Linked DNA regions of Homo sapiens. The main gene of each other region encodes a partner of the protein of the gene in region 3 in a complex. Each region holds a gene or a part of one and is shown on either strand. Other genes may lie near its edges. A codon is read from its position in the direction of its gene.

Region 1 (3,403 bases), on a different chromosome or scaffold from region 3:
GGTCTAAAAAAATAATAATAATAATTCACAAGTCACAGTCATCACTTCACATCAGGGACGTGTTCTGAGAGGTGTCCTCAGGCAATTTCATGGTTGGGTGGGGCTAGGTTGCTCTTACACATCCTAGATGGACAGCCTGCCACACGCCTGGGCCGTGTGGTACATAGCCCAGGGCTCCTGAGCTGTGGACCTGTGCAGCAGGTGACTGACTGCTCCATCCTGCAGGCACTTGTAACCCAGTGGTATATGTGTCTTTAACATAGAAAAGGCACAGCAGAGGCCAGGTGCGGTGGCTCATGCCTGTAATCCCAGCACTTTGGGAGGCTGACGTGGGCGAATCCTGAGGTCAGGAGTTCGAGACCAGCCTGGCCAACATGGCGAAACCCCCGTCTGTACTAAAAATACAAAAGATTAGCTGGGCGTAGTGGCGGGCACCTGTTAAAAAAAAAAAAAAAGGCACAGCAAAAATATCGTTGCGGCTGGGGCAGTGGCTCACGCCTGTAATCCCAGCACTTTGGGAGGCCAAGGCAGGCGGATCACTTCAGGTCAAGAGTTCGAGACCAGCCTGGCAACATGGTGAAACCCCATCTCTACTAAAAATACAAAAATTAGCCGGGTGTGGTGGCAGGTGGCTGTAATCCCAGCTACTCAGGAGGCCGAGGCAGGAGAATCACTTGAACCTGGGAGTCAGAAGTTGCAGTGAGCCAAGATCGCACCACTGCACTCCAGCCTGGATATATGGCAAGACTCTGTCTCAAGATTTATATATATTAAATAAAAATACAGTTGTCTGTAATCCCAGGACTTTGGGAGGCTGAGGTGGGTAGATCATAAGGTCAGGAGTTTGAGACCAGCTTGACCAACATGGTGAAACCCCGTCTCTACTAAAAATACAAAAATTAGCTGGGCGTGATGGCATACACCTGTAATCCCAGCTACTCAGGAGGCTGAAGAACGAGAATCGCTTGAACCCGGGTGGCGGAGGTTGCAGTGAGCTGAGATTGTGCCACTGCACTCCAGCCTCAGTGACAGAGTGAAACTCCCGTCTCAAAAATAAAAAATAAAGGCCAGGCATGGTGGCTCACACCTGTAATCCCAGCACTTTGGGAGGCTGAGGCGGGCGGATCACGAGGTCAGGAGATCAAGACCATCCGGATAACACGATGAAACCCCGTCTCTACTAAAAATACAAACTGGGCGTGGTGTCAGGCGCCTGTAGTCCCAGCTACTCAGGAGGCTGAGGCAGGAGAATGGCGTGAATCCGGGAGGCGGAGCTTGCAGTGAGTCGAGATCGCGCCACTGCACTCCAGCCTGGGCAACAGAGCGAGACTCCGTCTCAAAAAAAAATAAAAATAAATAAATACAGTTGTAATCTGATGGGGCCACTATCAGGTATGCGGCCTGTCACTGACTGGAAATTATTCTGCAGTTGGCAATGATGGCTGTTTTTGGAGATCTGAATCCAGTTCATTTGAGGGAACCCCCAAGGTTCTCTGGTTGTGGCCTCTTGAATAAACCTCTCACATTTGGACAGTTTGTTACCAAATTGGGTTCTGGATGTTGGTTTCCTTCCGTGTTGGGGGTGGGAGGAAGGTGTCACACCTGTGGAGTTCCCCCCGCTACCGCACTGGCACCAGGGTGGCTGCTGCCTGCAGTGCTGATGGCCGTGTACCCTGTCTGTCCAGATTGGTGCTGAAGACATGGACGGCTTCCAGGCAGACACGGAGGAGGAGGAAGAGGAGGAGGGCGACTGTATGATCGTGGATGTCCCGGATGCTGCGGGTGAGAAGGGCTGTAGATAGCAGAACGCACTGGTGAGGTGGGCGCTGGAGGTAAACCTCAACAGAGAAGGGATGGGGCTGCCTAAGACTAGCTCCACTGTGAGCAGCCAGGAGGGCTTGCAGCTGGAAGTGGCTCCTGCCCTGCCACATCCTCGGGCGGGCTGGGCCGTGGGTGCTGACCATGCCAGGCATCGTTCTGGCCGCAGAGCCACAAGGGCCTATGCTGGGAGTCTCAGGTGGTTGTGACGTTAGATGGGGGTCAGGGAAGGCTGCACTGAGGCAGCAAGGGAGGGCCAGGTGGATTTCTGGAGCACTCGCCAAAGAGGAAGTACAGAGGCCCTGCAGCAGGCTGCGTGGGAGGAGTGTGCCCGGGTGGTGGGGGGCAGGCAGGGTCAACCTGAGAGCAGGTGAGCAGGTCACCTCTAGAAGAGGCACAACGCCCCAGCCTCTGCCTGTCCCCACTGTCAGGTGGAGGGTCCCGCCCTGGGGTTGTTGCAGGCCCCATGAGGCAGCAGGGTGGGGTCTTCCCCCAGGGAGCCCAGAGGGCCCAGCCAGCTCAAGACCCTCCCTCTCTTGCCCTGCAGAGGTCCAAGCCCCGTGTGGAGCCGCTTCCGGAGCTGGGGGTGGTGTGGGGGTGGACACCGGCAAGGCCACCCTGACCGCGAGCCCACTGGGTGCATCCTGAGAGCAGGGGTGACGTATGTAGAATGCTTAGGGTGTCCTCCCCACAGAGCAGATACTTGAACCGACTCAATTCCTGTGTAAAGAGCACTTTGTCCTGCTTCACGGACCTCCCCAAAGTGTGCAGAGTTCTATATAGGATGCTGGATTAGTTCCTTTGATATTTGTAAAAATTCCCCCAAGAGCCGCATATGAATCTGCCCTTTAATAAAGCATTATTGAGATTGCTGGCCTATTGGGGAAGCCTGCGGGCACAGGAGCAGGCGTGGAATCCAATACTTGTAAATGAATTGAAGCGTCAGGACCACCCGCCTGGCCACGTGCGCGGGCCCCTGGACCTAACGAGGCAGTGTATAAACTTATTCTCTAGCCCTGAGCTGCTCTGTCTGTCTTTTCCGAAAACATTGTGTTTCTCTGAGAGTGCACCTTGCCCATGGCCCGGCCCCATGTGGTGCCTGGTGTCTGGGGCCAGCCTTGTGCCCTGCAACAGCACCGTCCCATCTGTTTGTCACTAAGTCACCCTCATACCAGGCTGACCTGGGTCAAGGTGCGGGTTTTTCCGCACGTGCTTCTGTCCGGCGATCCCTCCTGCCCTGGGTTGGGGGGTTAGGAGAGGGTGTTCCCAGAGACCTGCTAGGGTCACCTCCCTGAACCCGGAGCTGCTGGGAGCCGAGTTTGGCTTCGAGTCTGAGGCTTTGTGAGAGCCCACCCCAGGTCAGGTGCATCTTTTGCGAGTGCTGGAGCTAGAAGGTGACCTCCTCCCCGCCCCAGGTTGAGTGGGCTTTATCCACACTGTCCGAGGGAGGACAGGCGACAGCCGCTGTGGTACTGAGCAGCTCAGAGCACACGCAGCCACGGGGAGGGTCACGCTCGCCAGTCCTGCTCTTCCCAGCCACACCCCACCTGAAGTCCTAAGCTTCCCTTCAGGGAACCCTATGTGG
Region 2 (3,745 bases), on a different chromosome or scaffold from region 3:
AAGAGTTACTTCTTTCCCAGAACTTCAGTATGTAAAAAAAAAAAAAAAAAAAAAATTCCAGGCTTTCACCCAGGAGGAAGGGAACCAGTGACAACCGGAATTCAGGTAGGAAGGCCTATTGCAGGCCATCCTGGCCAGTCCAGAGGTGTGGGAGCTGGGGGTCTCCTGCTCTTTCCTCTCCCTCTATGGCCAGCTACTTCTCCCCCCGCCCCCTTCCCCAGTGCCCAGTGCTTTGGGCACTGCCCTGAGTCTGTATCCACGGGGTCACTTGTTGGGGGTGGGTGGCTGACTCTGAGGGTAGATTTTGGCTCAGTAGGAGGAAGGACCTTAATTGAGCCGCCTGCGGTGGAGCAAACGGCCCCTTGGCAGCTGCAGGTGGGCGGTGATGGTGAGGGGCTGAGGGGCTAAGGAGCCTTGTCATGGATGCTGCTAGGAGACTGAGCCAGGTTTCCTGTCCGGAGATTCTGGAATTCCGAGCAGGGGTGGCCCACATTTCCCAGCACGATGCGGATTTTGCTGAGGGAGGATGGGGAGAGAAAGAGGGTGAGGGAGGAAGGGCGGGCAGGGATGTGGCCCCTGCCCAGCGCGGATGCCCCAAGGATGCAGCGCTGGCGAGGCAGGGAAGTCCTCCTCTAGAACGCGTGCAAGTGACCCCTCAGAGCGCACCTCCGCTTCTCCTCCCCACCGTGGGGGCTCAGTTCCCTGGACACGGGGGCCAGGGTTCCCATACTCCTCGCCCCTTAGGTCACGGGCCTGGGGGGCTCAAATGCCAGGGAGCTCTCTCTTGACAGAGCTGACCAGCCCGGCCCCTTAGGTCACGGGCCTGGGGGGCTCAAATGCCAGGGAACAGAGCTGACCAGCCCGTGCCAGCGCACTCCCGGCCCGGGCTTCTGTCCTCTTCCTCTGGGGCTGAGCATCAGGGAAGTCCGCGGGATCCTGCGAGGGAGGCGGCAGTCCCCAGCCGAAAATGAGGGGAAAGAGGAAGTGGTGTCCCAACCAGAAACTCAGTGGGGAACGGAGGGAGGCAGCGCGGCCGAGGAGGAGGAACACCCCCACCGTGGTGGGGGTCAGAAGAAAGTTAGGGCCAAGTATTTGCTTGTCGGCCTTCTAGACTAGGAAGGCTCTCCTGCGGGCTCCACTCCCGCACCCCGCGTCTCTCCTTCTGCCTTGCCCGGGTTCCCCCAACTTATCTTATCCTCGGGGTCCCGCCCACCTTCTCCCCGGGGTCCCACCCCACTTTCAGTCTCAAGGCTCCCCCAGCTCACCTTCGCGCCCGCGGACCCCTGGGTCTACCTTCAGCCTTGGGGGCCCTTCTCGGCCTATCTTCCACCTTCGAGATCCCCCCACCCGCCTTCTCCCCCGGCAGGGTCCCCCCGGCCGTCTTCTCCCCCGGCAGGGTCCCCCAACCCACCTTCTCCCCCGCAGGGTTCCCCAGCCCGCCTTCCCGGCGGCGGGAGCGGCGGCCCAGGCCGGCGGGCGGAGGCGGCGCCACCCGGGGCGCTGACGTAGAGGCCGCTCGGCGGCCGGGGGTCCCTTCGGTGGGGCCGCGGCTCCCCGCCCGCCGCCCCCGCGCGTCCATTCCCTTTTGTGTCCCGCGCGCGGCCCGTCCCCCGCGCACACTAGCGCCCTGAGCCCCGCGGGCCGGCGGGCGGCTCCCGGCGCGGCCCCTCCAGCCAGCGCGCCCGGCATTGTGTGGACGCGCCTGGCCGGGAGCGCGCGCGGGGGCTGTCGTGCGCCCCCGTCCCCGTCCCCTCCCGGCCGCGGCGCCGCCTGCGCCCCGCCGCCCCCGCCGCCCCCGCGCGGCCCGGCCCCCGGCCCGGCCCGGACCGACCCGGGCAGCGCAGCGGCGGGGCCGAGCGGCGGCGCGGCGCGGCAACATGGCGACGGTGCCCGTGTACTGCGTCTGCCGGCTCCCCTACGACGTTACCCGCTTCATGATCGAGTGCGACGCCTGCAAGGACTGGTTCCACGGCAGGTGAGCGCGCGGCGGCTGCTCGGCTCGGCCCGGCCCGGCCCGGCCACCTTGCCCGACCGAGCCCCGCGCCCCCGGCTGCGCGCCCGCAGGCCCGGCTCGGGGACGGGCCGCCGCCGCCGCCGCCGCATTCCGGGCGCCCCGGTCGGGGCTGGGCCGTGCCGGGCCGCGCGCCCTTTTGTGCCCAGGGCGGGGGCGCCAAGCACGGGGCCCGCGCTGGGCGCCCCTGGCCGCCGCGCACAAAGCGAGGCCCGCGGGCCGGGAGGTGGGCTCGGGGCTCGGGGCGCGGGGAAGTTGGGGCTCCAGGCCCGGGCCGGGCCGCCTGTCAGCTGGGTCGCGGCGGCCGCAGAGGCCGGGCATCCGGAGGGAGGCCGAGGCCCGGAGCCCCCGCCGCCTCCCCCCTGCGAAGTTGCAGGAACTTTCCCCGCGCGGGCTCGGGGTTGGCCGGGCCGGGAGAAGCGGGCGCGCAGCCCGGCGCGGGTCCCGGGAGAGGCGCGAGTGGCGGGCTCCGACTCCGGCAGGGCTGGGGAGTCCGTGGGGGCTCCGGCGAGGTGGCAGCCGGCGCGCCCACCCTCCGCCGTGGCCGGCGAGCTCCCTTGGACCTTGTCCCCGAGGGCAGGACCCCTCCCGGACCCCCGCGGAGCAGCTAGACCCGGCAGGCCTGCAGGTCCGCGGGCAGGAGTGCGGTGACAGAATAGTGTCTGTGAGTTGGGTAAGGGGGGTTTGTTGTGGCTTTGCCACCTCCTCCCTGGCCTTCAGTTTTCCCCGTTTCTCTCCTCTCCGTTCCCGGCAGGAACGCCGGTTTTGACATGATCTTATGCTCCCTAAGGAAGATGGGGAGGGGGGAAGGAGGTAACGCTTGGAGACACTGAAAACCCCCGCCCTCTTGGCCCTTGCCGATGGCCATGACCTGGCCCCATGCCTAGGGCAGGTCCCTTCCCACCAAGAAGTAAATGGAGGAGGAGGAAGAGGAGGTGACAGTGTTGCCCAAACTGCTCCAACAGGTTCTCTTGCATCTGACTTTGCCTGTGGGATGTGTTTGGACCCGGGGCTGGCCAGGGCTGTATGCCCTCTGGGGCTCCAGTCCCAAACCACCGGCAGCAAGCAGCCGGGGGAAAGAGAGGGGTGTGTGGTGGTGGGTGGTCCGGGATTCTCCTTCCAGAGAGGAGATCCTCCTGCAGGTTCTAAGACTGGGTCTTCAAGACTGGTCAGTGGTGCTTAAGAGTGGGCTGTGGCCCCAAGTCCAGTCCTGCCAGTTTACATGTGGGGACCTGGGTGGCTGGGATGTGACAGGGCCTGCTATGTCTGTCAGCCCCAGTCCTGAGTCCTACCTCCCTGCTGTTAGAAGGGCCTGGGACTCTGTGGGGTGGGGATGCCCACGGAAATCTGGGCTGCCTTCCTGGGTATGCCCAGGGCTGTGGAAGCCCCTTAGAGCAAGGGAGACTGAGTGTGAACACCGGGCTCTGCCCAGAACAGGGCTGACATGCACACCCTCAACTGGCAGCCGTTGAGAAGTTCATGGCCGGGCCAAAGTGAGTGAGAGCCTCTAAGGCTCCTCATATCCAGGGATGCTGAGCTGCTGGCCCTGAAAAGCCCTGAAAGTGGTGGGGCCTCTGCCTTCTCCCCCATCTCCACCGGAGCCCTGACCTGGCGAGCGCAGTCACTCTGCTACAGAACCTTCTGGGCACCTGTGTCAGCTCCTGGCTGCTGCCCACACTCGGGGCCCAGAGTAGGGAGAGTGAGAGAACGCGAGAAGACCTTTGTCTCGCTGCT
Region 3 (2,759 bases):
CGCCCGCCTTGGCATCCTAAAGTGCTGTGATTACAGGCCTGAGCCACCTCGCCTGGCCAAGCTAAGGAGTTTTGAGGCCAGCCTGGGTAACACAGTGAGACCTCGTCCCTAAAAATAAATACAAATTTTTAAAAATTATTTGAATAAAGTTGGGCCTTGAAAACAAACGAGGGCATCTTCGTGCTAAGGAGTGCAGCGCCTCAGGTTCATTCCCGCCAAACCAGGCAGTGTTAGGAAAATCAAGACCGAGGCCAGAAAAGCCGCTGCAGTCATGCCCAAGACAGCTGTCCTGGCAGCCGAGAGGCCCAAGAAAGCTTGGGGCGTCCTTATTCCGAAAAAGAGTACTAAGCGGACCCCAAAAGCTTTTGCTGGTGGAGGCTGCTGGAGAAGGTTGGTTGGTCAAAGGTGGCCAAGAAAGTTCCCAAGCCGGAGGCATCCAAGCCTAAGAAAGCGGCCCCCAAAACAAGGAGATATAAGAGTACCTTAAAGGCTGTTTTAAGAACTCCCCAATTATAATAAAGCTTTTTGCACCAATTCCGTGAGGGGAGGGGGAACGGATAGAGGCAAGAATGCTTACTTACCTTGAGTGAACAGAGGTTCCAGTTTACGGACAGCAACAGTAAACAGCAACTTTTATAGAAAAGGTGGTTGGCTCTGAAAAGAGCCTTTGGGTTTTGGTTAGCACACATTCACAAGACAATTTACGCCCTCTCCCCACGAATGCGGCGAGCAAGCTGGATGTCCTTGGGCATGATAGTCACTCGCTTGGCGTGAATGGCGCATAGGTTGGTGTCCTCAAACAGCCCCACCAGGTAGGCCTCGCAGGCCTCCTGCAGCGCCATCACCGCCGAGCTCTGAAAACGCAGATCAGTCTTGAAGTCCTGCGCGATCTCACGGACTAGACGCTGGAATGGCAGTTTGCGAATCAGCAGCTCGGTCGACTTCTGGTAGCGGCGGATCTCGCGCAGAGCCACCGTGCCGGGCCGGTAACGGTGGGGCTTCTTCACGCCGCCGGTGGCTGGAGCGCTCTTTCGAGCAGCCTTGGTGGCCAGCTGCTTGCGTGGCGCTTTCCCACCCGTGGACTTGCGAGCAGTCTGCTTGGTACGAGCCATTGCGAACTTCTAAACCCTGCTAAATGACGAAAAAACGAAAGTCTAGCCTTTCGTACCCGTATATATAAAGACACCCCTGTTCTGATTGGACAAGGCAGCCTTTCCCCTGCAGCTCGATTGGTGGAGACGCCCACTCCCTGACAGAACATCTCCTGCATGTAGACCAAATATTAAAACTTTCCTCCGTCCATCTTTAACTGCTGGTGTTTTCAACCCTTTCCCCTCTGTGCCATGTTTCTAGCTTTTATTTAAAACGTACTTTGGTTTTCCTTGGCAAAATTGTGTCTAGCTACTAGGATGACGTGTCTTAATTTTTTTTTAAATGTTGGCGCTGAAACTGGCTTTGATCAACGTTTTAAAAAGACGCGCGCTAGTTGTGATTGGCCAAGTGATTTCTTTTTACCCTCTTAAGTTTAGAAAGGTTAATTTCATATCTTGATTTGTCTATTTAAACTTGGAGATATTTTCAATAATTTGTTCCAAATGCACCATGACTATTAACTCATAAGTAACAATATGAAACCTGATGTTAAGCTACATGAACACATTTAATTTCACCACAATATGTCATCCTCATATGAAAGCACTCTTATCTTTTACAAGTTCAACTGGTATTTGTGTAATCTGCTGTAAAAAAAAAAAAAAAAAAAAGCCAAATTTATAAATGGCACAAAAAGACCAGTGTGCCCTTTTAGTCATGCTGAACACTGTGCTAAGAAGCTCCACCTAAGGGCCGTCTGGCTCCAGGGGATGTAGGTTTGTATTCCTATTGATAATTAATTAGGGTTAGCTCAGTAGAGTTGAAAGTGGCTTGCAAAAACAAACCCAAAAAATACTTACAAATTACAGGTTATTTCGTATCATTAAGATGCATACAAAAGACAATAAAACATTTGTTCTGGTTCTGTTGCTTTAAGTCACTAACTATATTTTTATGTAAATGTAAACACTGACAAACATTAACTTCTCTCCTGTATGTCTCAGGCCTTTTAACAGCTTTGCAATCCTAACGAGCCGCTGCATTGATCGATTTAAATTACATGTGACATAAAGTCTCTTTGCATTTTAATTAGTTTGCTTTTTTGGGTTTTTGTTTGTTTTGAGACAGTCTCGCTCTGTCGCCGAAACTGGAGTGCAGTGGCGCGATCTCGACTCACTGCAACCTCCGCCTCCGGGGTTCAACATTTTCTCCTGCCTCAACCTCTTAAATAGCTGAAATTACAGGCGCGCGCCACCACGCCCGACAAATTTTTTTATTTTTAGTAAAGACGGGGCTTCACACCATGTTGGTCAGGCTGTCCTGGAACTCCTGACCCTGTGATCCGCCCACCTTGGCCTTCCAAAGTCCTGGGATTACAGGCGTAAGGAACCGCGCCCCGCCAATTTGCTTATGTATTTTTATGGCATCTTTAAAATGGACGGTTAGTTTCACGATTCAGTGTTAAGAACACCCACTTATAAATGGAAAAATTATTAAAGAAAACTGCAAAATAGCTATTTACACAGAAAATGTGAGCCCTTTTAAGGAATACATGGGTGGCTCTGAAAAGAGCCTTTGTTAAGACTGCTTCCTTAAAAAGCCAATATAAGAGTTCTCGTTTTACTTGCCCTTGGCCTTGTGGTGACTCTCAGTCTTCTTGGGGAGCA

Evidence for each region.
Region 1: the proteins of H3C4 (region 3) and CHAF1A are in contact, whole or in part, in a cryo-EM structure (PDB 7Y5U), measured with the Homo sapiens proteins. Residues at the interface, in NP_001363866.1 of Homo sapiens: Arg43 (codon at 986), Gln56 (codon at 947), Lys57 (codon at 944), Thr59 (codon at 938), Arg64 (codon at 923), Leu66 (codon at 917), Gln69 (codon at 908), Arg70 (codon at 905), Arg73 (codon at 896), Leu83 (codon at 866), Arg84 (codon at 863), Phe85 (codon at 860), Gln86 (codon at 857), Ser87 (codon at 854), Lys116 (codon at 767), Arg117 (codon at 764), Val118 (codon at 761), Thr119 (codon at 758), Met121 (codon at 752); in NP_005474.2 of Homo sapiens: Val548, Glu602, Glu603, Glu606, Glu608, Asp622, Asp623, Gly625, Glu626, Asp627, Glu628, Asp631, Asp632, Gly633, Phe634, Phe635, Val636, His638, Gly639, Tyr640, Ser642, Glu643, Glu670, Lys674, Arg677, Phe678, Arg679.
Region 2: the proteins of H3C4 (region 3) and PHF2 are in contact, whole or in part, in a crystal structure (PDB 3KQI), measured with the Homo sapiens proteins. Residues at the interface, in NP_001363866.1 of Homo sapiens: Ala2 (codon at 1,109), Arg3 (codon at 1,106), Thr4 (codon at 1,103), Lys5 (codon at 1,100), Gln6 (codon at 1,097), Thr7 (codon at 1,094); in NP_005383.3 of Homo sapiens: Tyr7 (codon at 1,896), Tyr14 (codon at 1,917), Val16 (codon at 1,923), Thr17 (codon at 1,926), Arg18 (codon at 1,929), Phe19 (codon at 1,932), Met20 (codon at 1,935), Ile21 (codon at 1,938), Glu22 (codon at 1,941), Trp29 (codon at 1,962), Glu39, Ala42, Ile45, Asp46, Tyr48, Lys63.

What each region holds. Positions count from the first base shown.
Region 1 is NC_000019.10:4,440,560-4,443,962, forward strand, and holds the end of CHAF1A (chromatin assembly factor 1 subunit A), read left to right. Parts: intron 1-1,685; coding exon 1,686-1,782; intron 1,783-2,365; coding exon 2,366-2,466; 3' UTR 2,467-2,838; downstream 2,839-3,403. UniProt on the Homo sapiens protein: Acts as a component of the histone chaperone complex chromatin assembly factor 1 (CAF-1), which assembles histone octamers onto DNA during replication and repair.
Region 2 is NC_000009.12:93,574,897-93,578,641, forward strand, and holds the start of PHF2 (lysine-specific demethylase PHF2), read left to right. Parts: upstream 1-1,687; 5' UTR 1,688-1,877; coding exon 1,878-1,975; intron 1,976-3,745. UniProt on the Homo sapiens protein: Lysine demethylase that demethylates both histones and non-histone proteins. Enzymatically inactive by itself, and becomes active following phosphorylation by PKA: forms a complex with ARID5B and mediates demethylation of methylated ARID5B.
Region 3 is NC_000006.12:26,196,139-26,198,897, forward strand, and holds H3C4 (histone H3.1), read right to left. Parts: upstream 1,149-2,759; 5' UTR 1,113-1,148; coding exon 702-1,112; 3' UTR 646-701; downstream 1-645. Other genes in the region: H2AC7 (histone H2A type 1-D), read right to left, coding at 2,713-2,759. UniProt on the Homo sapiens protein: Core component of nucleosome. Nucleosomes wrap and compact DNA into chromatin, limiting DNA accessibility to the cellular machineries which require DNA as a template.